Homo sapiens: one gene and its partners. The protein of the gene in region 1 purifies or fractionates together with the protein of each later gene. This does not show direct contact. Each region holds a gene or a part of one and is shown in the gene's direction. Other genes may lie near its edges. The genes, in order: SLAIN2, WAC, LOXL2, NNT, YBX3, LYSMD2 and VRK1.

What was found.
Region 2: the proteins of SLAIN2 (region 1) and WAC purify together in Homo sapiens (affinity purification with mass spectrometry; one large-scale study listed by BioGRID and IntAct). This does not show direct contact.
Region 3: the proteins of SLAIN2 (region 1) and LOXL2 purify together in Homo sapiens (co-immunoprecipitation; one study listed by IntAct). This does not show direct contact.
Region 4: the proteins of SLAIN2 (region 1) and NNT purify together in Homo sapiens (affinity purification with mass spectrometry; one large-scale study listed by BioGRID and IntAct). This does not show direct contact.
Region 5: the proteins of SLAIN2 (region 1) and YBX3 purify together in Homo sapiens (affinity purification with mass spectrometry; one large-scale study listed by BioGRID and IntAct). This does not show direct contact.
Region 6: the proteins of SLAIN2 (region 1) and LYSMD2 purify together in Homo sapiens (affinity purification with mass spectrometry; one large-scale study listed by BioGRID and IntAct). This does not show direct contact.
Region 7: the proteins of SLAIN2 (region 1) and VRK1 purify together in Homo sapiens (affinity purification with mass spectrometry; one large-scale study listed by BioGRID and IntAct). This does not show direct contact.

Annotation. Positions count from the first base shown.
Region 1 is NC_000004.12:48,418,029-48,421,528, forward strand, and holds part of SLAIN2 (SLAIN motif-containing protein 2), read left to right. Parts: intron 1-2,096; coding exon 2,097-2,415; intron 2,416-3,500.
Region 2 is NC_000010.11:28,609,618-28,613,117, forward strand, and holds part of WAC (WW domain-containing adapter protein with coiled-coil), read left to right. Parts: intron 1-1,081; coding exon 1,082-1,204; intron 1,205-1,637; exon of another isoform or gene 1,638-1,864; intron 1,865-2,156; coding exon 2,157-2,305; intron 2,306-3,500.
Region 3 is NC_000008.11:23,366,121-23,369,620, reverse strand, and holds part of LOXL2 (lysyl oxidase homolog 2 precursor), read left to right. Parts: intron 1-1,186; 5' UTR 1,187-1,269; coding exon 1,270-1,624; intron 1,625-3,495; exon of another isoform or gene 3,496-3,500. UniProt on the Homo sapiens protein: Mediates the post-translational oxidative deamination of lysine residues on target proteins leading to the formation of deaminated lysine (allysine).
Region 4 is NC_000005.10:43,648,180-43,651,679, forward strand, and holds part of NNT (NAD(P) transhydrogenase, mitochondrial), read left to right. Parts: exon of another isoform or gene 1-3; intron 4-967; coding exon 968-1,129; intron 1,130-2,297; coding exon 2,298-2,408; intron 2,409-3,500. UniProt on the Homo sapiens protein: The transhydrogenation between NADH and NADP is coupled to respiration and ATP hydrolysis and functions as a proton pump across the membrane. May play a role in reactive oxygen species (ROS) detoxification in the adrenal gland.
Region 5 is NC_000012.12:10,709,824-10,713,323, reverse strand, and holds part of YBX3 (Y-box-binding protein 3), read left to right. Parts: coding exon 1-113; intron 114-2,535; coding exon of another isoform or gene 2,536-2,565; exon of another isoform or gene 2,566-2,973; intron 2,974-3,209; coding exon 3,210-3,416; intron 3,417-3,500. UniProt on the Homo sapiens protein: Binds to the GM-CSF promoter. Seems to act as a repressor. Also binds to full-length mRNA and to short RNA sequences containing the consensus site 5'-UCCAUCA-3'. May have a role in translation repression.
Region 6 is NC_000015.10:51,734,856-51,739,143, reverse strand, and holds the start of LYSMD2 (lysM and putative peptidoglycan-binding domain-containing protein 2), read left to right. Parts: upstream 1-1,488; 5' UTR 1,489-1,521; coding exon 1,522-1,794; intron 1,795-2,081; exon of another isoform or gene 2,082-2,204; intron 2,205-4,288.
Region 7 is NC_000014.9:96,879,746-96,882,109, forward strand, and holds the end of VRK1 (serine/threonine-protein kinase VRK1), read left to right. Parts: intron 1-1,431; coding exon 1,432-1,463; 3' UTR 1,464-1,864; downstream 1,865-2,364. UniProt on the Homo sapiens protein: Serine/threonine kinase involved in the regulation of key cellular processes including the cell cycle, nuclear condensation, transcription regulation, and DNA damage response.

The DNA of each region.
Region 1 (3,500 bases):
GACAACCATGGGGACAGTTTCTAACCTCTGTGCCTTTTATTATTATTTCTTCTTCTTCTTCTTCCTCTTCCTCCTCTTCCTCCCTCCTTCCTCCTTCTTTCTCCTTCCTCCTTCTTTCTCCTTCCTTCTCCCTCTTCTTCTTTTTTTTTTTTCTTGTTTATTGCACTGGCTAGAATTAGTGGTAAGAGCGTATGTTCTTGTCTTGTTCCTGGTCTTAGGGGAGATGCATTCAATCTTTCTTCATTAAGTATAATGTTAACTGTAGGGTTTTTGTAGATGTTCTTTATGAGGTTGAGGAAATTTTCCCTATTTCTGTTTTTCGGAGAACTTTTTTCATGACTGTGTTGAATTTTGTCAGATGCTTTTTTTGAGTCCGCTGTTACAATTCTGTGATTTTTCTTCATCCTGTTACTGTGGATTACACTGATTGATTTTCAAATATTGAACCAACCTTGCATCTTGGAATAAATCCTCCTTAGTCATGGCATATAAATCTATTTATATATTGCTGGATTCTATTTTCTAATATTTTTTTAAGGATTTTTACATCTATATTTGTAAACAATATTGATCCGAAGTTTTCTTTTTTGATACTGTCCTTTTCTAGTTTTGGTATCTCAGTAATACTGGCTTCATAAAATGAATTGGGACATGTTCTTTCCTATTTTGTGACGGAGATTATGTTGAATTTGTGTTCATTCTTAAACATTTGGTGGAATTTCCCAAGGTTGCTCCCAACCTCCAACAAACATTTGTTCTGCTGCTTGTTACCATAAATTAGATATGACTTTCCTCAAATTTCTTTATAACACAACATTCTACAGTGTGTGTGTGTGTATGTACACACGGACTGTTTTGTGTCTGGCACTCATTTCATTCAGCAAAATTTTTGATATTCATCTTTGTTCTATACATCAGTAGTTTACTCCTTTTTACTGCTGAGCGGTATTCTGTTGCGTGGATATGCTACAAATTGTTTATCCATTCATGTGTTGATGGACATTTGAGCTTTTTTCAGTCTTTGGCTGTTACAAAGTTGTAGTCAAGTCTTTGTGTGGACATAAGCTTTTTTCTGTTTTCCTTTTTTTTTTTGAGACAGAGTCTCGCTCTGTTGCCCAGGCTGGAATGCAGTACCGCGATCCCCGCTTATTGCAACCTCCGCCTCCTGGGTTCAAGCAGTTCTCCTGCCTCAGCCTCCCAAGTAGCTGGGACTACAAGCATGCACCACCACCCCCAACTAATTTTTGTATTTTTAGTAGAGATGGGTTTTTCACCATGTTGGCCAGGCAGGTCCCGAACTCCTGACCTCAGGTGATCCGCCCGCCTCGGACTCCCAAAGTGCTGGGATTACAGGTGTGAGTTACCACGCCTGATCTTCTTTTTTCTTTTTGAAGCAGAGTCTTGCTCTGTCACCCAGGCCGGAGTGCAGTGGCATCATCTCGGCTCACTGCAGCCTCTGCATCTCTGGTTCAGGCAGTTCTCCTGCTTCAGTTTTGAGTAGTTGGGATTATGGGTGCATGTCACCATGCCCAGCTGCCTTTTTGTTTGTTTTTTCATCATGTTGTGCTTTGTGAAGCACAGCAATGGAAGCACTTTTTAAAAATGATTTTTAGTTTCTAAATTTTTAGTTACAGTGTCAGTAATATGGGATTTGGACATAGAGCCTCCAGATACTTGATACATGTTTACGTGAATGTTTCTTTTCAGGGGAAATACATTTCAAATTCTAGACAACAGTTGGGTAGTCAACCTGTTTTTCACCTCTAGAATGTTTGTTCATATGTGGCCCACATTAGTTGCTACTGTGAGACAGAATCCTGCAGTGCCTTTTCTCTTCTGGTATTATGGATTCCAAGCTGGCCTATTTAAAATACTGTTGTCAAAGACAGTTGTAATCCTCTAAGTACTTGGTCATTTAGAACTCACAGTTACTTTTTTTCTTTTAGTAGCCCAGGAATAGCTTTTATTGTTTGCATTGCTGTGAAGTTTCCTGAATACACATGTACTAGTGCCCAATCATCAGTTGTAATTTAAAGCAATGGTTTCATATATACAGATTTCCACTCAAAAATTGGTTTTTCTTTGCCATCCCACAGTACCTTCTCCAGGCAAATTCCGTTCCCCTGCAGCACCATCTCCTTTGGCTCTTCGGCAACCAGTGAAAGCATTTAGTAACCATGGCTCTGGTTCTCCTGGTAGCCAAGAAATAACACAGCTCACACAAACCACCTCCTCACCTGGGCCTCCTATGGTTCAGAGCACAGTCTCAGCAAATCCTCCCAGCAATATCAACAGCGCTACTCTAACCAGACCTGCAGGGACAACTGCAATGAGAAGTGGCTTGCCCAGACCCAGTGCCCCTTCTGCTGGGGGCATACCAGTGCCTCGCAGCAAACTTGCACAGCCTGTTCGCAGGTAAGTGGCAGATGTTCTGTTTCAGCATTCTTGAGTGCCTGAAAGTGGATAGACTGGAATGAATTAGCTTCATCCGTATGTTTGATAGTAAACAGAAAGTCATGGTGGATTCCCACCAGAGTTTTAGTACCATTTGAATAAAACTTTACTACATTGTTTTTAAGAAATCCTCATTTGGGACTTTTACCAGTTTGGTTCAGATTAAATTTGTCCAGTTGCCTAACGTGATTAAGCATCTCAGAGGACCCCTAGAAAAAAAATTGTTAGAGCCTCTCAATTTGATTGTGATATTCATTCATTTCGAATATAATTATATTCAATAAAGATGATAAAGGTATATTAGAATATAGAGTGATATTTAAGATAAAACTTCTAGCTACCAAGTCTGAGTATAATCTATAAGCATGGTTTTCAAACCCTTATTCTATAATTCAGAATTATCTGTGAGATTTATATAAATGTAGGGTGTAAGTTTTACCTTCAGAGAGTCTAACTTAGTAGATCTGTTATGAGGCCCAGAATCTGTGGGTGTGCTAGGTATTTTGTTGTTGTTTTTTGTTTTGTTTTTGTTTTTGTTTTGTTTTTGTTTTGAGATGGGGTCTTGCTTTGTCTCCCAGGCTGGAGTGCGGTGGTGCAATCTTGGCTCACTGCAGCCTTGACCTCCCAGGCTCAAGCAATCCTGTCACCTCAGCACCCCCTGTAGCTGGGACTACAGGCGCACACCACCATGCCTGGCTAATTTTTGTAGAGATGGGGTTTTACCATGTTGCCCAGGCTTGTCTGGAGCTCCTGAGTTCAAGTGATCTGCTTGCCTCAGCCTCCCAGAATGCTGGGATTACAGTTGCTGGTTTTTTTGTTTGTTTGTTGTTTGTTTGCGTAATCTTCAGATGATTCTGAATCAGACAGGTTGGGAATGATGCATCTGTAACCTTTCAAGAATGGGATTACCACCATCAGTAAACTTTGGTGTCAAATATAATTAAACTGGAAATATTTATCACTGTGCTAAATAAGTAAATGCTTGCTTTGTTTAATCTTCATAATAATATTAAATGAGTAGGTATTCTTATTTCTATTTTTCAAAA
Region 2 (3,500 bases), on another chromosome or scaffold:
GTGGCTCATGCCTGTAATTCCAGCACTTGCTGAGGCTGGTGGGCCACTTAAGCCCAGACCAGCCTGGGCAACATGGTGAACCCCATCTCTACTAAAAATACAAAAACTTAGCCAGGTGTGGTGGTGAACGCCTGTAGTTCCAGCTACTTGGGAGGCTGAGGTGGGAGAATAACTTAAGCCTGGAAGGTGAAGGCTATGGTAAGCTGTGATTGCACAACCCTGTCTCCAAAATAAATAGTTGAAGAAATAATAGTTAATGTCAATAATAAAATATCTTACACATCAAAAATACATGGTATTCCTAAATACTTTTTTTTTTTTTTTTTTTTTGAGATGGAGTTTTTGCTCTTGTTGCCCAGGCTGGAGTGCAGTGGTGCAATCCCGGCTCACTGCAACCTCTGCCTCCCAGGTTCAAGCGATTCTCCTGCCTCAGCCTCCCTAGTAGCTGGGATTACAGGCACCTGCCACTATGCCCAGCTAATTTTTTGTATTTTTAGTAGAGACAGGGTTTCACTATGTTGGGCAGGCTGCTCTTGAACTCCTAACCTTAGGCGATCCACCTGCCTCAGCCTCCCAAAGTGCTGGGTGTGAGCTACCATGTCCGGCCAATACTCCCTTTTTTGTATCCATTTTTAGATTTATTAGGGTGGATCTTGATATAGGATTTGAATGGCCAGCTTGTCTAAAAGGGCAATCACATGAAATAGCAGTTGTTTATCCAGTTAATTCCATATAACATACTGAACACTCACATATGAATAGGTTTCTGACATAATTGGAAGTTCCTGTGAACACTCGTTAAATTTTGTAGAGAGACTTTGTTCAGGTGATCATCTTAATTAGTGTAAAAGAAACTCTGTTGGTTTACCTTTATTGTAAACCCATTAAGTTTCTTTTTCTCTGCCTCAGATCATTTCAAATTTGGGACCCATTGTATTACTCCTATCTAGTAGGCTTTTATTTTGAGAGTTCTAGGTTGAAATATTCCAGTTTCTTGTGAGTTCTCTTCCTTGTCAGGTTGTTACTAATGCCACATAAGCCTCTTGTTTTTATATGAATGTATGAAATAATATGTTTTTAGTTCTTACAGCAGCTGTGACACAAGCCTCACTGCAGTCTATAATTCATAAGTTTCTTACTGCTGGACCATCTGCTTTCAACATAACGTCTCTGATTTCTCAAGCTGCTCAGCTCTCTACACAAGGTATTCTTACTCATCTTAGATATCTCTAGAATGGCATCTTGATTTTGTTTTGGAATTAATAGCCCTTTTTTGTATTTAGTTTTTTCTTTCATTTTTTTTTTTAGTTTTTTAAGAGATTAGCTACAATAATTTTGTTTTTTTTGTAACACTGGCATATACAGTAGTATTTTTATTTCCTTTCTTTTTAGATGAAGCAAGCTTTGACATTTGTCTTAAGGTATTGCCATCAAATCTGTAATTATTTAAGACAGTATTTAATTCAGACTTTGTTATTAATGAGTTTTTTTATGCCAAAGCTGAAAGTAAACTATGATGTGCCATATATCTTTGTGAAACATTGCATGTATTTGAAGAGTTGAAGTTTGGTTCAGATTGACGTTAGATGTTTTTTGACTGGATAATATGGAAATGCTCATTTTCTGCCTTGAATTAGATATCCCTCTTCATGAAGGTATCCAAATGGAGAGAGATACACATAGGAGCAAATGGGAAGTGAAAGGGTCACTTTGTCAGAAAGCTGATAAACAGCAGGAATGCCTTGTCTGGAATGGAAGTATAATGGTGCAAAGACTCTTGCAACCCTCTGGCTAGCCTCATGAGCAGGAGACTGCGTGGGATACCTGGGCCTAAATGTAGAATAAGAAAGAAGAAATAAGGATGGTGAGGAGGCCTTCCATGTGAGATTAGGTTCAGGCCTAGCTTCCTGTTCCAGCCACATAAAGGAGAGTGGGCCACACTGGGTGTGCTTACCTCTGAACACACAGCTCACTTAGTCAGTGTGGCCCAGTGAGAAGGTCAGATTCTGATTTATTCCAATAAGTGTTCTCTGGGTAATATGGGGGTGGGGGGGTTTAGAGTAATACAAATATCTTTGCCACATATATTACAAAGGACTTTAGTTTTTTGTTTTGTTTTGTTTTTCTTTAAAATTAATTGCTTCCCTCTTTTACAGCCCAGCCATCTAATCAGTCTCCGATGTCTTTAACATCTGATGCGTCATCCCCAAGATCATATGTTTCTCCAAGAATAAGCACACCTCAAACTAACACAGTCCCTATCAAACCTTTGATCAGTACTCCTCCTGTTTCATCACAGCCAAAGGTATGTCACCTTTGAGGGACATTCGGAAAAGAAACTACTTACTTTTGGAAAGTCAATAACATTTTAGAATCTGTTATAGAAAAAGCCCTCTGAGAATGAGGTGTAGTGGTGGAATGAATGACAGGTATGATAGTAGATGCAGCCTAGAATTTCTCAGTTCACTGAGGGATAGAGGGGGGCTTTGAATCTGTGCTACTTTAATAAACCATCTGAGTCTGTTCCCTAATGGTTTTGGGATTTGTCACATGGAGAGTGAGATAAAGAGGATATACTGAGTCTTAATATTTGTAGAATTTTCAAACTCCAAAAGACATGAATGAACATGTTTTCCAGTGACTTTTCCATATTTGTATTTCAAAAATGAGGCAGTTTCTGTGCTAAGAACTTAATGTATGTTTAGCTTTCACATCGTGAGAATCACTTGCTTTATTTAATAGATGAGAAAATCAAACTCTCAGTTAAGTTTTTGTGGTAGAGTCAGAATTTGAAACCTAGGTGTTTGTGAATACAGGGACCCATTTTACTAAGCTTATATTGCCTGTATTTGTCCCAGCAGAATCTTACATGGTTGGCTCCATAGGTGCAGTTAGAAAATTGCTGGTCTAAATGGTAAATGTAGGGGGAATTTCTTTTGAGTAGTTTTGAAACAGTGGGCTGTTTCAGACTTTTTAATGCCAAATAATTCTTTGTAAGATATTAAGCAGAAGCCCAAAAATAAAAATGCATTGAAATATAACTTGAAAGAGGTGGTTGGTCAGCTTTTAAGTCTTCCCGTTTGTTCATCCCTTCCCTACCTTGGCCATTGATCATTGCATGTTTTAGGGTCAATTTAGATTGATTTTTAAAATTCCAAGTTACAGTTGTTAGTTTATTATGCAGTTCCTTATCATTTGCCAGTATTTTAAGGAGGAAAGAATTAAAATGTGAGTTTTGGCAAAAGAGATGTTATTTTTGGAGCTTAGAACTTGTCTTCAGGGTGGCATTTTAAGAGTATAGTAAATAGTGGTTAAAAGTGAAATAAGTGGTAGTATTGGTTTTATAGTCACTTGTAAACTGAGCATTTCAACTCCTTTAAGAAGGCTGGGCGCGGTGGCTCACAGCTATAATTACAGCACTTAGGAGGCCAAGGCAGGAGGATTGAATTAGGCCCTGGGCAATATAGCAAGACCCCATCTCTACAAAAATAATTTGAAAA
Region 3 (3,500 bases), on another chromosome or scaffold:
TGGTCACCCAACAGACATGGAACTGCCTCACTCCAAGGCAGATCATCCCTCCATGGGCAGCTCTGGACAGCTCTGACTACAGGAAAGTTAGCCAGTCCTTCCTCAAAGGTAGTGTGCCATGACCAGAAGAATATGATTAGCCTACTCCTCTGCATAGGGTTAAAATAAAATACCTTATGCCCCCACCTAAGCTTCCACCTGCTCATCCTGGTTTGGGGCCCTGCATGTTTCTCCACAAGACACACGTGTGCTCCTTTTAAAATCGTCTCCTCTTTTCTCTGAATTACGGGAGGACCAAGATACACGAGGTCTCTTGCTACATGATTTCACTCGGGAATTCTTAGAGGTAGGCTCCACCAGATACGATGACCAGGACCTTGAGGATTTTAAAACTCATTTAGCATTGCAGCCCTCAAAGCTGACGGGAAAATTATAATTCATCTAGCAAATGTTCCTGTAGTGTTTTGGGGTGCCATTCATTTAATGGAGGGTGGGTGTGTTGAACATCCTGCCCTCACCCCTTCAGACCCGCTCCTTCTCCACCGGCCCCCATGTTCCAGGAGGCTGTCCCACACGGGCTCCCTCAATGGGCTCAGCTCCCTTGCCAGTGGCTTCGAGTTGAAGGGGGCTGGGTTTGCCTAATAGGAGGCACCAGAATGATTCAAAGACGGGAGGAAAGGGAGTCAGGTATTTATTCTCCCTCCCATGTCCCCGCCGTTGCCATGGGTTGGCTCTGAGACCCTCCAGTGAGGGCCACAGCTCCTAAGAGACAGCTCCCTCTGCCAGTCTCCAGTTCTCACCCCCGCAGGCTCCCTTCAAGCCTAGGGTGGTCACAGCCCCCTCTGAGTCGCCAGCCCTAGGGTGTGACACCGGCCTTTGTTAGTTCTGCAGAACTCTGCCGGCATGTCCGTAGTCTTAAAAAACTCTCCTTAAATTAAGTTGGAGTGTGTTCTGTTCCCTGCCAGGAACTCTACTGGAAAAAGCATTCTAGAGAGATGACAAGGCAGTAGGTAAAGGAGGTGGGACCTCCCAGCCCTGCATGGTGGAAATGTAGGAGTGGGGCTGGATTGGCGTCGAGAATGGACGAGCTTTCCATATTAAGCCAAGGGGTATGAAATCGCTGGTTCTCTATGTAGGTCTCCGTAGCCCCACGTTCCCATCCTAACGCATCTCTCCTCTCTTCCAGAAAGCTCCTGCTGCTTCTGTACCCCGCCTGTCCCTCCCAGCTGCGCAGGGCCCCTTCGTGGGATCATCAGCCCGAAGACAGGGATGGAGAGGCCTCTGTGCTCCCACCTCTGCAGCTGCCTGGCTATGCTGGCCCTCCTGTCCCCCCTGAGCCTGGCACAGTATGACAGCTGGCCCCATTACCCCGAGTACTTCCAGCAACCGGCTCCTGAGTATCACCAGCCCCAGGCCCCCGCCAACGTGGCCAAGATTCAGCTGCGCCTGGCTGGGCAGAAGAGGAAGCACAGCGAGGGCCGGGTGGAGGTGTACTATGATGGCCAGTGGGGCACCGTGTGCGATGACGACTTCTCCATCCACGCTGCCCACGTCGTCTGCCGGGAGCTGGGCTACGTGGAGGCCAAGTCCTGGACTGCCAGCTCCTCCTACGGCAAGGGAGAAGGTAAACGCTCTGTGCTTTGGATCTGAGTGCTGTCACCTGGCAAGGCCCGGAGTGGCCTTCCCTGAGGTCAGCCTGGGAGAGGAGGCTGCACGCACTGCGAAGTGTAAATTCTTGGTGATGCCCATCCAGGGACTGGCATCCTTCTGTGCCCACTCAGGCTGCACCCTGCAGGAAGGCGGGGTCGGGGGGCTTGAGGAGGGGCACAGTAAGTGACCAACCATACTGATTTGCCCAAGACTTTCCTGGCTTTAGCACAGAAAGTCTCACATCCTGGGAAAACCTCAGGAAAACCAGGACAGTTGGTGACCCCAGGTAGGGGGTGAAATCGGCCTGTGCTCCTCTCTCCGCCCCATATGCCCTGCCTGGGGGCTGCGTCAGCCCAGAGGAAGTTGCGCTTTACTCCAAATCGTTCCCTGTTAGGAAAGCCTCTTGCTCTTCCTCACAATGGCTCCCACATGCTGGAGCTCCCTGACGCCCCCCACCTTCCTGGCATGTGGAGTTCATCGTTTTCACACTAACCTGCTATTGTGGGCTTGGTCACAATAGGCACACAGATGCTTTGGGTTTTTCACCGTTGGTTAGCCTATTCTTTCCTCCCTTGTGAGGTTCAAATTTATTAGTTTATTTTTAAAAATTGTTTTAAGAGCTGGCCAGGCGCAGTGGCTCATACCTGTAATCCCAGCACTTTGGGAGACGGAGGCGGGATGATCACTTGAGGTCAGGAGTTCGAGACCAGCCTGGCCAACATGGGGAAACCCCATCTCTACTAAAAATACAAAAATTAGCCGGGCATGGTGGCGAGTGTCTGTAGTCCCAGCTACTCAGGAGGCTAAGGCACAAAAATCGCTTGAACCCGGGAGGCGGAGGCTGCAGTGAGCCGTGATCGCGCCACTGCACTCCAGCCTGGGTGACAGAGCGAGACTCCATCTCAAAAAAACAAAAAACAAAACAAAAACCCAAAAAATTGCTTTAACAGCTTTGAGGCAGGACAAAGTTTGAAGCCCTGAACCTAGAGCTCAGTCTGTACTGACCTCTGACACCACACTTTGTAGGAAGACGCATGTCCTCTCCAGCCTCATTTTCCCCATCTGGAAGTTGGGCTAAGAACCCCTGAAACCCTGACAGTGTATGTTCCCAAATAGGAAAGAGATAAGGGTGGAGGGAATTGTTTCTTTTTAAACATTTTTCCAGGAGCTAAGAGTTTCCTATCTCTGGGTCAGCCAGGCAAAGGAAGCTCCCACACCCTCCCGCCCGGCTGAGCTGCAGCCCAGACCTCAGCACAAGTCTGGCTACTGGACTAAAGCAGAGCTGCCTATACTCCTGTCCTGGACTAAAGGGCTAATGCCATGCTGACTGCGTAAGAATCGCCCAAGGGAGCTTAAAAGTACAGAATAGCGCAGACCTCAACCCACCATAATCTAGTTTAAAAGGTCTGGGCTGGAGCCCAGGACTCTGTCTCTTTTGGAAGTCTGCAAAGTGACAGGTTTGGGAGTCATTGAAATTGATAACTGTTATCCTCCCTTCCAACTTTTCTGTTATTCTAGAAATTATAGGAGAAAGGAAGTCCCATCTCATACACATCTCACCTCCATGCAATTGAAAATTTCCTTTTGGGGTAACTGGATCAGGAGACAGCACAGAGTCAAATGTTCTCTGCAGCTTGCTCTGGGCGATGAGAGCCACAGCAGTGAAGTTAGCAAATGCTGGGCTTTAGAACCCACTTCCTGTCTTCTTTAAACAAACGTCCGATACTTCCACATCTCTGTTTATCCGGCTGGCTGAGCGATCCAGGGGTAACCTCAGATTCATGTTTTCCATTCCAGGCTTTCCAACGCTCATTATTTTATAACAAATGCTTTCCAGTGACTGGGTATTT
Region 4 (3,500 bases), on another chromosome or scaffold:
TGGGTAGGAAAATAAATTAAAACTACAGTCATATTGAATGATTTAATGTAAAATTAATGTCAATCCCTAGATATTCCAGTGGTGCCACTTCCAAAGTAATAGTTTACATCAAGGAAAAAGGTACCTTATTCAGGAAAGTTAACTTCTAGTTCCCTGGTCACCCACTGTCATTTTCTTTTTACTGACCACTAGGTAACACTTTCTTCTGTTGCAGAACAACTGTCCACATGTTTGCTATCAAGGAAGGCGATAATTAAAGATGTATGTTCAGAGCTGTTTGTATTCTGCACATTCTTAATTTAATTTGTATTTTTTTTCCTTTTGTTTGTAAAATCCTGTTTGCTGACTTGGTGTTGAGGCTGGAGCTGACTGCCCTGGCCAACAGTCCAGTCCAGATTCAGGAGCAATTGCAAAATTTGTGTCCCGGGTGGGTGGAAGCCATATGTTTTGGGGAGGTGCTGGAGTGAATGAAATTCTTCCTACTCTTTTAAAACCCCTATTCCTCAGCCAAATCTGAGAGTGACATAAAATTGCCTTCATAAAAGTCTTGTCTTATAAAGGTTGTGTCTTGCCCAAGTAGAAAATGCTTTGGTAGATCCTCTGTAGGCCTGTAATCGGGAATAAAAATGCTTATATAAACACATGTGGCATTGTTAATAAAAGTTAAAACAGGGAAGAGGACAAACTACACAGAGGAAAATGTGCAAATTGTTATTAGTGTGACTCATAAATATTACTAGATCTTTATAGCTTATTTTGGGGGGGTGGTCAGAAAGTTGGGTTTTGTCCACAGTATTCCTCCATCCCCCCACTTCTCAACTGTCAAATGTCTAAAAAATCTGCTCATTACTGGCAAGGGAGTGGAATTTAAAAGCATTGGCTATTCCACATATTTATGTATGTGCTTTTAATCTTACTGAGATAACTGGATGTCAGCTCAAACACACTCTTTACTCTCTTTCTCTAGGTCTCACAGGGATACTGGGTTTGGGCATTGCGGCTCCCAATCTAGCCTTTTCTCAGATGGTGACCACTTTTGGCTTGGCTGGCATTGTGGGGTATCATACCGTCTGGGGAGTGACCCCTGCTCTCCACTCACCACTGATGTCTGTGACAAATGCAATCTCAGGTTTGTTCCTCTCTTGTTTTTCCTCATCTCAGGTTTTCATAGGGTTACTCAGCTCTAGGAGGACTATCAATGCCGTTTATAAAGTGTGTTTTCAAGTTGTTTTGCTTGGCATCTGAGTCATCTGCTTTGGTGATCTAAGGGCTCCCAGACTCTGAGAGGGTATGGGATATGGGCCTGCAGAGTAAGAGGCCGTGGGAGTGTGTCAGCTCTTTGGGCTGCTCCCATTTCAAGCAGTGCAGAGCCACTGTTATTTCTTCCAAGTTTGATCCTTTTTTTTTTTTTTTAAAGAAAAGGATTCCACTGATAAAATTTGAAAACCAGTGTTCCACAGAATCATAGCTGCAACATCCTATAGGGCTCTCCTTGGATTCAACTCAGCATTCAGCCTAGCAAGGCTACAATAGGCCCCATGTGGCATCAGGTTCACCATGAAGCTATGGGACAGGAAAACACAGCTTTCCAGTGAGGTGGCATCAGGCATTTCTCTTTGGTGCCGGTCTTTTCAGCAGTTCATGCAGCAGTCCATGTGGTTGCCCAGGATCTATTCTCTTTGTCCCCTAGCAATGGGTCAGATATGAGAGAATGAGTCCTACATTGGACAAGCATAGGAGCTGTCCTGGCTTGAAAGCCTCAGGGCCAATAGTCATCTTTTATAACATTGCCATAGGCACAGCTTCGAGGATCTCTGCAGGGAACATGTCTAGCTCCAAGAGGTGCTGTAGTCAGGAAAACCCAAAGCTAGGCATCCCCAGCAGGCATTTACAGTTCATGAATACTTTCTTCCAGTTTACATGCAAATTATCTACCAGGGTCACTTTTTAACCATAAGCAATGTTGTCTATAACACTGGTGGATTTATATCTGTATTAGAGGAACATCGCTAGAAAGTTAAAAGAAAGTCCAATTCCAATGCAGAAGGAGAAAAAGTTTTGTTAACCCTTTTCCCACAGTAGTAATTTCAGTGAGAATGATGTGAAGATGTGTTGTCAACAGTCTGCATAAGCAAAATTGTTTATTTCATTTTAATGAGGGTGTAAGAAAGCTGCCTTGTTTTTTAATATTGAGAACTTTACCCTCTATGAATCTATGTATGTGAGGTACTTCAGCTATGATATTTGATTTGGTGGTGTCACTATCACTATTAACCATGTTAATGCTTTCTTTCTAGGGCTGACTGCAGTTGGTGGGTTGGCACTGATGGGAGGACATTTGTATCCTTCCACAACTTCTCAGGGCCTTGCTGCTCTTGCTGCATTCATATCCTCTGTCAACATTGCAGGTATGATGTCAGTGAAAGGTCTCAGTACTATTTTCAATGGAGACATACAAAGCAAATATAAATCCATATAAAATAGACATAATTGTGCCTTCAAAAAATGTTTCACTCTGACCGTAAATGCTCTTTTTGCAGGAAAATTAGTTATTTTGCCCATCTGTAATTTTTAGAAACTCTTGATAAAAGAACAACCCCCAGATCCCCAAAACAAACAAACAAAATGATGTCTTGCTACAAGTTAACTGGAAAGTTATTGAATGCATAGTTTTGAAGTTGGGTTAGAGCTATCACCGTAACATCTATAAATTAGTATAATTTTAGATAAAATTTTAGTCTTTTGCCTTATCCCAGCCAGGGTTTGTTACTGGAAACTGAAAGCCTAGCACATCACTCATGTGTGAGACTCATTTGATGCTATTTTGTAGCTAACAATTCTTTAATGTGTCCAAGAAACCTGGTGCCTGTTGATATGGTATTTTTTTCTTTTATAATTTATTATAGGGTTTTACAAATGTAACAACCTACTAGGAAAAGATACCAATCTTTGATCTTTCACATTCTCAAGCTTTTTGAATGGCTTTTTTTTCCTTTTAGTCATGCAGAAATAGTTTTGCATTCTGATAGCAAGTTTTCTTCCTGAATATATTTAGTGTTTTTTCCCCCACCTCTCTAATGGAACTGGCTTGAGTAATAGAATGACTTTAAATTTTGGCTGGGCACGGTGGCTCACACCTGTGATCCCAGCACTTTGGGAGGTCAAGGCGGGTAGATCACCTGAGGTCAGGAGTTCGAGACCAGCCTGGCCAACACGATGAAACCCCCCTCTCTACTAAAAATACAAAAATTAGCCCAGCATAGTGGCGCGAGCCTATAATCCCAGCCACTCGGGGGGCTGAGGCAGGAGAATAGCTTGAACCTGGGAGGCGGAGATTGCAGTGAGCCAAGATCGTGTCACTGCACCCTAGCCTGGTCAACAGAGTGAGACTCCATCTCAAAAAAAAAAATTTGAGGTTGCAAAATGTTACTTTAAATTATATTTGTTCCTAGGTGATAAAGATGTGCTTAAAACAGAAAAATTGTAGCACTTTAAAAAAT
Region 5 (3,500 bases), on another chromosome or scaffold:
CTGCCAATGTGACTGGCCCGGATGGAGTTCCTGTGGAAGGGAGTCGTTACGCTGCAGATCGGCGCCGTTACAGACGTGGCTACTATGGAAGGCGCCGTGGCCCTCCCCGGAATGTACGTTGTCTCTGTTACTTAACCAGTGATTGAGAAATTGTTCATGCATGGAATTAAGTGTATGTACTTGGAGCAGATAAATGCCTTGTCTTCTCCTGGAGACAAATGATTTAAGTGATTTTTATTTTTTCTTTAGAGGAAATTTTTATCTTATTTTTTAAAATGTGTATTATTGATTTCCATAGGTTTTTGGGAAACCGGTGGTGATTAGTTACATGAATAAGTTCTTTAGTGGTGATTTCTGAGATTTTGGTGCACCCATCACTGGAGCAGTATACACGGTACTCTTAAGGGGAAATTTTAGCGCTCAGAACTTTTCCAGAGCCGCTGGTCTCATTAGACACTTGCCATTCAGAAGTTGTATCAGTTAGGATATATTTGGCTACAAGTAATAGACATTTAATTATCTTTTAACAGGAAGACTTAAGGGAGACAGTGCTGAGGTTTTTTTTAACAAGGTTTCTCTTCATTTGGCTCTTTTTTCTGGCCAGAACCTAGTCACAGACATTCACTGGCAAAGGGGAATGGATTTCCATCATTGACTTAACCTTGTTGTTCATTCTTTGGTGCCGACACTGTTGACCTCTAAGAAAATCAAAATTTGGTTGGTGAAAGAGTGAGAAATAACTTGTGAACAGGCAATAAAAGTACAGGCCACAGAACTATTAACGAATTTGCCTTGGTTAAGAGGCTGTTTTATTTAGCATAGCATTTTTCCATTATTTCAAAGTAAAGAAGCAATAAGTGATTCTGTGGATTTTTAGTTCTTTAGGTTGGTTTCAATGCAGGGGAAAGAGTTTGTCACAAATCTGGCTGGAGCTTTCTTGGGAGGCTCAGTTTATAGGAGTATTCTCAAGGCACCCAAAACGGACCCAGTATATTTGTGGTCATGAGAAACTTACTAGATTTGAATCATTCTTGGTGTTTCTAGAATTAGAACCAGGTATTGGCACATTGAAGAAAACTCCGAATGTTTGTCAGCACAGGATTGTGACTGCCTGTCTCATCCAAAGAAAAACTCATCAGAATTAAATATCTGCAGATTGAGAATGACCTATCTTTATGTTTTGATAGCTTTATATCTTTCTGTTTACCTAAATGCTTTTCCTCCTTATTCTGCCATCATCACATCCTGCCCAAATTAATTCTGTCAGATTCCTTAGGACTTCCCACTTGTTTCTTTGTTTTTGCTTATCTTATTTGGTTTTTAATAAGCTATGAGGGGGATAGCTAGGAATGAGCTGCTGTAGCATTTCCTACATCATGTTCTCTTTGAAGTTCATCAGAGTCACAGAGCGCTAACTGTGATTATTTTGACTCCCAGGTTAATTCAAAAGCAAAAGTGGTAGAAAAACATTCAGTGAAAAATTTTTCTTAAAGACTTTTCCTGTCCAAAACCTGAAAATTCCAAAGTCATGCATATAAAAGATATTTAGAAACAAAATTGTTAAAACGCTTAAGAAACAAAATTGTTAAAACTCTTAAAGTATACATAAATGAGCTTTTTTGTTGTAATATCTAAGTCCCAACAACTTGTTCAGTATCTCTCAAAAGAGTGTGTTCAGCATTGCTGGTGCCATTATTATGCTTTGTAAAACTCTTAAAGATTTGATTGTGTGAAATGCAAAAGAGGAAGATAAGCCCAAGAAGAAAAACAGTTTATGTTGTCTCACACTTAATATTTTGGTAAGCATTTTCTGTGCAAATAAACGTTTACATAATTGTGAATCTCATCTTTGGTAGAGGTTTTATGAAGAGTAGAATGACTTGATTTTTTTTGAAGTTAGACTAGTTGAGGCTTTTTTGGAGGGGGAGTTTGGTTGCACATGTGGACTTGTTCTGGAAGGGTCCAAAGCTTAAATACACTCCTGTAAAAAAAAGTAATGGGTCATTATTTTGCTTTTTTTATTTATTCATTTTTAAAAACTAGTTACTTCCCATTAAAGACATTTGCATATCCCCTTTAAAGTAAGACTTGAAATCACAGTCTTTGTAGGATGTTTGGTTTTTTAAAATGTAAAATGGTAGTATATGATATAATTTAAATAGAAGAAAAATATAAAATGAATCGGTAAATTCCTTTGTGAATATTAATAAGATCTATTATTTAGAAACCTCCAGGATTAGGGCTTACTACCATCAAAGTATGATTAAAGCTTTACTCCTAAACATATAAAGGGAGTCATGCCTTAGGTCAGTGGTTCTCAAACTTCCTGATTTTGGGATCTGTTTATATGCTTACATGTTATTGAGGATTCTAGAGTTTTTGTCAATGTTTATTTATATTAATATTATATTAGAAAGTAAAATAAACTTAAAATGTTAATTGATTAAAAATAACTATATGTTCATGAAAATAACAGTTTTTATGGAAAAAAAATATTTAAATTGAAAAGAGTGGTATTGCTTTATACTTTTGCAGATCTCTGATGTATGGTTTAATAGAAGATAGCTGGATTCTCACATCTGTTTCTGCATTCAGTCTGCTGAGAGACCACATGTCATTGTAGCCTTTGGGAGACCCCACCATATACTTCTGAGAGAATGCCTGGGAAAGGCAAATAGCATCTTAGTAATATTATGGCAATAGTTTGACCTCGCTGACCCCCTGGAAGTTTTCAGAAATCCCATCCACACTTTACAGACTTGTAGGAAGAATACCACTTGGGTCAAATATGTTGGTAACATCATAAAATGTATTCTTTTTTGGCTTTTCCCTGACATTGCCTCAGTGGATGGTAAATGCTGGGAGACACGCATTTGATGGAGCAAAAATTATAAACCTTGCAGATACTCTTCGGGTGGTTGGTTAGCTGATACGAGTTCTAATGAGATGACTATTAAATTGATTGTAGATTGATTGCTCTTGCTTTTCTGCTTCTTGGTATTTTATCTGCACAGATCTACTCTAATCTTAATGTAGTTTATCCCAGGCAATCACATGATAATCTGGGTTAAATGCATTTTGTCTGTATAATGGAAAGGATTATATTGCTTTGGGGAGATTTTATTTTGGTGATATTCATCCTAAATGGTGTTCTTTGGTTCTTTCCTTGCTAAAACTTCTTCTGAATCTCTGTTTCTTTGCTTCGCTAGTACGCTGGGGAGGAGGAGGAGGAAGGGAGCGGCAGCAGTGAAGGATTTGACCCCCCTGCCACTGATAGGCAGTTCTCTGGGGCCCGGAATCAGCTGCGCCGCCCCCAGTATCGCCCTCAGTACCGGCAGCGGCGGTTCCCGCCTTACCACGTGGGACAGACCTTTGACCGTCGCTCACGGGTCTTACCCCATCCCAACAGAATACAGGTAAAATTGCAACTGAGACTTCTCTTCAGCAATCCTCACCCTTCCGTCCTTCTCTGCCTCCTCTTCCTCCTCCTCCTCCAACAT
Region 6 (4,288 bases), on another chromosome or scaffold:
ACAGTTGGGCAGGTGGGAAAAAGGGACCATTGGGAAGAATTAGGAAAAATCTCATGGAGGATGTATCATTTGAGACAGACCTTAAAGATTTAAACAATGTAATAGAGGGTACTGGAAGAGTGTTACCATTGGAGGGAATAACATGCAAGGTATGAAAGTAGGAACAAGGAGGCCAGTTTCAGAGGCTCTGTTTGGCAGGAATATGTAGAGTATACAGAATGAGTTATAGATGGGGTATGGTCAGACCATGAATAATAAAAATAGAAATAATAGCTTGAATGCCAATGTAGGTTTTTAGTAATGCTGTTGTCCCCAGAGAGCCATTGTAGGAGTTTTGAGTGGGATGGTGTTGTGGAAGCTTGCTCCTCTCCCATCCTTTCTCTCCTGAGCAATATTAGCTTTGCCTCTGTCCAGCACAGCAACATACCAAAACTTCAGCCAACGAATCAAACCCCCAGGCTCCGGACCTTCCTACAAGGTACCTCTTCTTGGAAAGCTGTCCAAAATAACACAGAAACCAGGCACTAGATGCTAGTAAATGTGTACCCACTCTGTGTATAATACAGTGTGTTGAAAGGGTGTTCAAGAGTAGACGGTGTTCAAATGAAGAGTACAGATAAGAGGTCTTTGGTGGTTATAATATTAATAGCAATACGGGGCAGGGAGATGCGATTTCAGGGTGTCAAAGAATAAACTGACGAAGAGAAGATGAATGCAGACAGTAAATTCCAACTACTGAGCCTGGAGAATGAATTGTATGTGGCCAGCCTTTCGAGGCAGCCAGGACTTAAATTGGCACTAGTGTACAAAGTGTGAAACCCGAACAACTAGGGGGGTTATTTTGAGGCCACCCATTAGGCCTTAGAAGCACTATCCCTCCTAGTGCAATGTTGAAAGGACTGGACTCTGAGGCTGTTGAGATGGACCTGGAGAAGCTGTCTGTGTGTGTTTGATGATCTTAAGTTTTACTGTGACGTGGACTTTGAGGTCACTGGGGTGGGGGGAGGGAAGTACCCTTGGCATTGGCAGAGCTGGAAGGTCTGTGCAAGCTGGCTCCTGCTGGGGAATCAATAAAGGAGGCAGAGCAACGCTTTTTTTTTTTTTCGCCGTGGCCAGGGCAGGGTTCTGCCAGGGCTCTATCGCCAATGGAGCAGGGGTCCACCTGGGGCCTAGGACGCCTGCAGATAGCCCTCTCTTAGCCCCAACGGCCGCGGGCTTCAGCGCTCCCCGGCTCCCTCGCTCTGCAGGGTCTTCCCGGTACCGGCAGGCCGCGGCGGGAGCTGCTTTCGCTCTTAACCTTGCAGGTGCGTGTGCCGCGGGCGCCCGGGGCAGGCAGGACGCAGAGGAGGAGGCGCCCGCCATGCCCGGCCTGCGGCTCCCCGCCTCGGCTTCCCGTCCGCCGCCCCCGCGGAACGGCCTGCTGCAGCCCCTGTGAAGAGGAAGAGGCGGCGGCGGCGGCGGAGGAGGAGGAGGCGCCGCCCCCTTGGCAAGCTCCCCGACCCGGCGGCCTCGGCAGGACCCATGGCGGATTCCTCGCCCGCACTGTCCCTGCGGGAAGGCGGCCCCCGCGCGCCGCGGCCCTCGGCCCCCTCGCCGCCGCCGCGCTCGCGCTCCGGCTCCGAGTCCGAGGAGGCCGAGCTGTCGCTGAGCCTGGCCCGCACCAAGACCCGCTCGTACGGCAGCACCGCCAGCGTGCGGGCGCCGCTGGGCGCCGGCGTCATCGAGCGCCATGTGGAGCACCGGGTCCGCGCGGGCGACACGCTGCAGGGCATCGCGCTCAAGTACGGTGTCACGGTGAGCAGGGCGCGCCGCCGCGGCCCGGGCTGGCAGCTACCGCGCAGGAGGCGGTGCGGCTCGGGGTGCGGTGGGGGTGGGGGTGGGACTGCGGGTGGGGGTTTGGGGGATGGGGAGTCGCAGGGACGGCCGTGCGTCCCCGGGCGGCTCGGCTCCCAGGGCTCGCTCAGCGCGCGCTGCTGGCCACCGCAGTGGTCGCCAAAGCTGGTCCTGCAGCGGGAGGGGCGGACCGCCAGGGCTCCCTCCCTAGGTAGCTGCATCGAGTTCCCGGTGCCCCGCCCAGGCTCAGACTAGATCTGTCGCGTGAGGGAGGCCGAAGAGGACTAGGGCTTTGGCATCCCCGTGAACCACCTTCACCCAATTTGCAGGCCCCATCACACTACTCTATATTTACGCAAAGCCCAACTGAGGTGAATTTTGTTGTCTGTGAAAACAAGCTCCGTGATGAGTCAGGAATGGTGCAGTTGTTCCTACTGGGTGGTTCTGGTTCTATCGATTATGCTTCTTTATGTAGAAGTGAAATTACACCCTCTGGGCTCACTGGCAACCGCGAATGTGACACCTGTCGCTAAGCAGCAGCCAAGAACTGTGGTGAGCTGGAGGGCTGCGTTTATTACAAATTTATAAGTGTGTGTGTCTTGGGTGTATAGCATTACACCTCTGGGAAGAACATGGAAACCTGAGGGAACAAATTGTTTCATTAAAATTACTTATAATTAACTGTGAGCTATGTGATGGCCTTTTTACATTTGGGATCTGTATCAGTTTTCAGTGTTCTTTCCTGAAGCACCTTAGACAGCAATGGGAAGAAAGAGGATCTTATCTATATCTTTCCCTTAAAGTGAAACTCTTTCTGGCCCTTTACCGAATGAAGGAGCATCAGTATGAAGGAGAATGTATTTTGCATATTTAAGCCGGTATATGTTTACCTATCAGGTCCTTCTATCTTTGAAATATTTTGAAAGGGACCTTGCTGTGCAGTCATGTATTGACTCTATCATGCCATGGAGAGCCCCATTCTGCCCTCTTGGGAGTTCTATACATGTGAACATAGAGCTACAATTCTCTATGTGCCTTAATGGGGCCTGGTTTGAGTCAGAGGCAGAGGAAAGCGAAGTTGGGAAATACCAGTAGCTACCCTCTGCTGAATGCCTCCTGTGTGGCAGGCATTGCGTTTGTCTTGTTTCATCTTTATCTTATTTAACTTTCACAATAAGCCCAGGAGGTAGGTGTAATTAATCTTTTTACAGATGAGAAGATGGATGAGAGGTAAGGATATTTTCCAAGTATGATCATTCATTGAGACCAGCTTGAATTAACAGTGATAAAGCATTTGCTTTCCTCTAGATATTACTTTTGATATCCATCCTTATTTTTATCTTAGTCTTATCAGGAGCTCTCTCAGCATCCTGGCTACTGAAGGAGGACAGTCTTTTCTATCTGGTTTTCAGGCATCTTGCCTTACTAGGCTAGTGACAGCACCTAAAAATCTATGACATGCAGAAGAGTGTTATTTCCCATGCTGTCTTCCCGTGCAATCTCTCTGTGACCCACAGCCGTCTGTGGTTTCACTTGAGTTGATTATAGATAACTCTTATACATCTGTTTACTGCAGTTTTCCACCTTTGATCAAATGCTTTCTAATCCCTGTTATGTCTAATATAGATCCTATTACTCATAACCTCATTACCCCTTTTTAAAATTAAAGTGTAGATCAGATTTTTCGTTGCTTTTATAAAGACTTTTGATTTTAAGATATTAAACACAAGGATAATGAATCAGGAACTATAATTGATAGTGACACATAGTTCATTACAGGGTTTCCCAACCTCAGCACTGTTGATGTTATAGACCAGATAACTCTTTGTTGCACGGGGTTGTCCTGTGCAGTGTAGAATATTTAGCAGCATCTCTGGCCTCTACCCACTAGATGCCAGTAGCACTCTCCCACCCCTATTCAGGCATTGCCGGATGTTCTCTAGAAGGCAAATTTACCCCTGGTTGAGGACCACTGGTTTATTACATGTATTTCTCATTACTTTGGGCCCTGGCTTATAGTTGATAAAATTTTTAGAGACTCCTCCACTGGTAATATAGAATCAGTGAAAGTGATAATACTTACCATAACAGTGAAGTGATATTCTTGTTTTAATATCTTCAGATTTTTTTTTTTTTTGAGACAGGGTCTCACTCTGTTACCCAGGCTGGAGTGCAGTGGCACTAACATGGCTCACTGCAGCCTCAGCTGCCGCTGCTCAAGTGATCTTCCCACCTCGGCCTCCTGAGGAGTTGGGACTACAGGCTCAAGCCACATGCCCAGCTAATTTTTGTATTTTTTGTAGAAATGGGGTCTCATTATGTTGCCCAGGCTGGTCTGGAACTCCTGGGCTCAAGCAATCCACCCACCTCAGCCTCCCAAAGTGCTGGGCCTACAGGTGTGAGCCACTGCACTGGTCTAATATCTGCAGATATTAATTAGGTTTACTCATTGTGA
Region 7 (2,364 bases), on another chromosome or scaffold:
TGGTGAAAGTCTAAGTCCTACTAAAATACAAAAATTACCTGGGCGTGGTGACAGGCACCTGTAATCTCAGCTACTCTGGAGGCTGAGGCAGGAGAATCACTTGAACCCAGGAGGCGGAGGTTGCCTGAGCCAAGATCGTGTCACTGCACTCTAGCCTGGCAACAAAGCGAGACTCCCTCTCAAAAAAAAAAATAATAATAATAAAAATAAAATTTCTTGAAATAAAAACCTAAAAATCTACTGTGGGATATTTTTAATAGATGGCCGTGTTACAGAAATTTAAGAAAAAAACTCAAATTTTAGAATCAATCATAGTACAGTATATAGGGTATGTATTATGAGTGGCAGAAAAAAGGATATTCATATAAGCTTGAAATTTGCTTTCATTGAACTGTATGATTGAATAGAAACTATAACTTGGAAAAATTAAAAATGCTAGTTTTGAAACTGACCTTCATGTTAAGTAACTAAAACCCATGATCAGAAAACCTTTAGATACACATGGTAGAATTTTGTTCCACATTCAAAGAATGTTTCGTACTTTTCAGAAAAGAAGTATTGATCTTTTGTTTTTTTTCGTGCAGTCATTGATTAATTATGAGCACCATGCTGTCCCTGACTCTGGTGCCCCTGCTCTTTCCTGGCAGAGCGTAGCATGCGGCAGTGGGAAAGAAATGGCCCTGCTTCTTTCACCAGCACTAGGCAGCCGTGATCAGGCTAACTGCTGTACCCAGAGGTGGAGTAGGAGTAGTAGGTGGGGTGAAATGTCTTGGTGAGGCAGAATTCCCATGCCCCCAGCAGAGAGTCATTGATTTATTCCAAACCAGAATAGTTAGATAGGTACTGTCATAAAGGACTTAGACCAGTATCACATATGATCCTTTTCCAGGAGGCTACTCATTTGGGACCTGTATAATTCCTAGCGGAAAAGACTTTCCATTTCAGTATATCCCAGTGCTCTCCTGCCTCAAGGGTGTAGCTAATAGTCTTTAAAAAGCAACTTATTGCTTTGCTTTTCATAACATGTGTGACCTCATCGCTTCCACCTTAGGAGTGAATGCTTATCTATATTGCTAAGGTTTATATTTGGAGATAATGTTTTAAATTTTACAACAAATTTAAATTTTGGAGAGAAATATTTCAGTATTAGTAAAAATTAGATACGTTTTATCAGTCAGTATTTTTATATGGCTTAAGAGAAGGTAGGTTTTGTCAGCATATTTTTTGACATATTAAAAAATGACCCAATTTTCTAAGATTTTCAGAGTATTAGCAATCATACCTTTGTATGTCAGTTTTATCTTTGCAAATCACGAGAGTCGATTTGATTTTAAAATGTTAATAACTATATTTAGGGATATTTATATTTCTGTTCTTTTGCTTTTGTAAATTATTGACTAGTGATTTCAGTTTCTTTGATTTTTCTTCAAGGTTCAAGAACCAGAAAGAGAGTCCAGAAGTAATTCAGATGCTGTGAACCAGATTTCCTTTTCTTTGTTTTCTTTTGACTTTTTTCTCCTTTTCTATTTGAACTGTTTTATTTTCCTGTGAGTCTTGCGAGGTGGAAGTAATGATTAAATACTCATGTGTTCAGAAAACATAAACTTTTTTTATAAAAATATTTTGTACAATTCATTAAAGGCTAATTTATGAAATTTGAAAATCTTCAGGTTATACTCCTTAAGTTATCCCAAAGCCGTGTGTTTGTGATGTTTTGGAGTACATATATATGAAAATTATTATGACACGCACTTTTCTAATCATTGTACATTTCTCAGAGTGGATAAAAATGTTTGACAAAGTCCTCACTTTTAAGGAAATGCAAAGCTTAAAATAAAACTCTCTTTTGTTTGATGCAAACACACAGTATGTTGTGGCTGTAAGGTTTGGTTTGTATTGATTTTGTTCTGTTCCCAAAATCTTTTATTAAACACCTGCTGTATGAGACAGGAGGTACAAAGACAGGAAAGGAATATGAAATAAAAAGTGGAGGAAGCGTATCCATGAGAGAGAAAATCTACATATATGAAAGATTACATAAGAATTATGTCAGTATGCAAGCCGTATGACAAGAAAACAAGTGACAGATGATCAAATGGTGGTGTGATTAAAGATTGTGTAAAGACTGGCTTCATCTACGGAAGTCCTATGAACTAGATATTAATAGATAGAGCCTATTGTTCATTCACAGAAGTTTATTTTTCTTAAAAGTTTCACTTTCATAGCATGTAATATTTATACAGTAAACCAAGCACTTCAGAGTTTCAGTGATCAGAAAGTTTAAGATCTGAAATGTTTTTAGTTGCCTTGGGAACAGAAGCTTGTAATTTTAACACATTTATGAACAATTTCATGATTCATTCC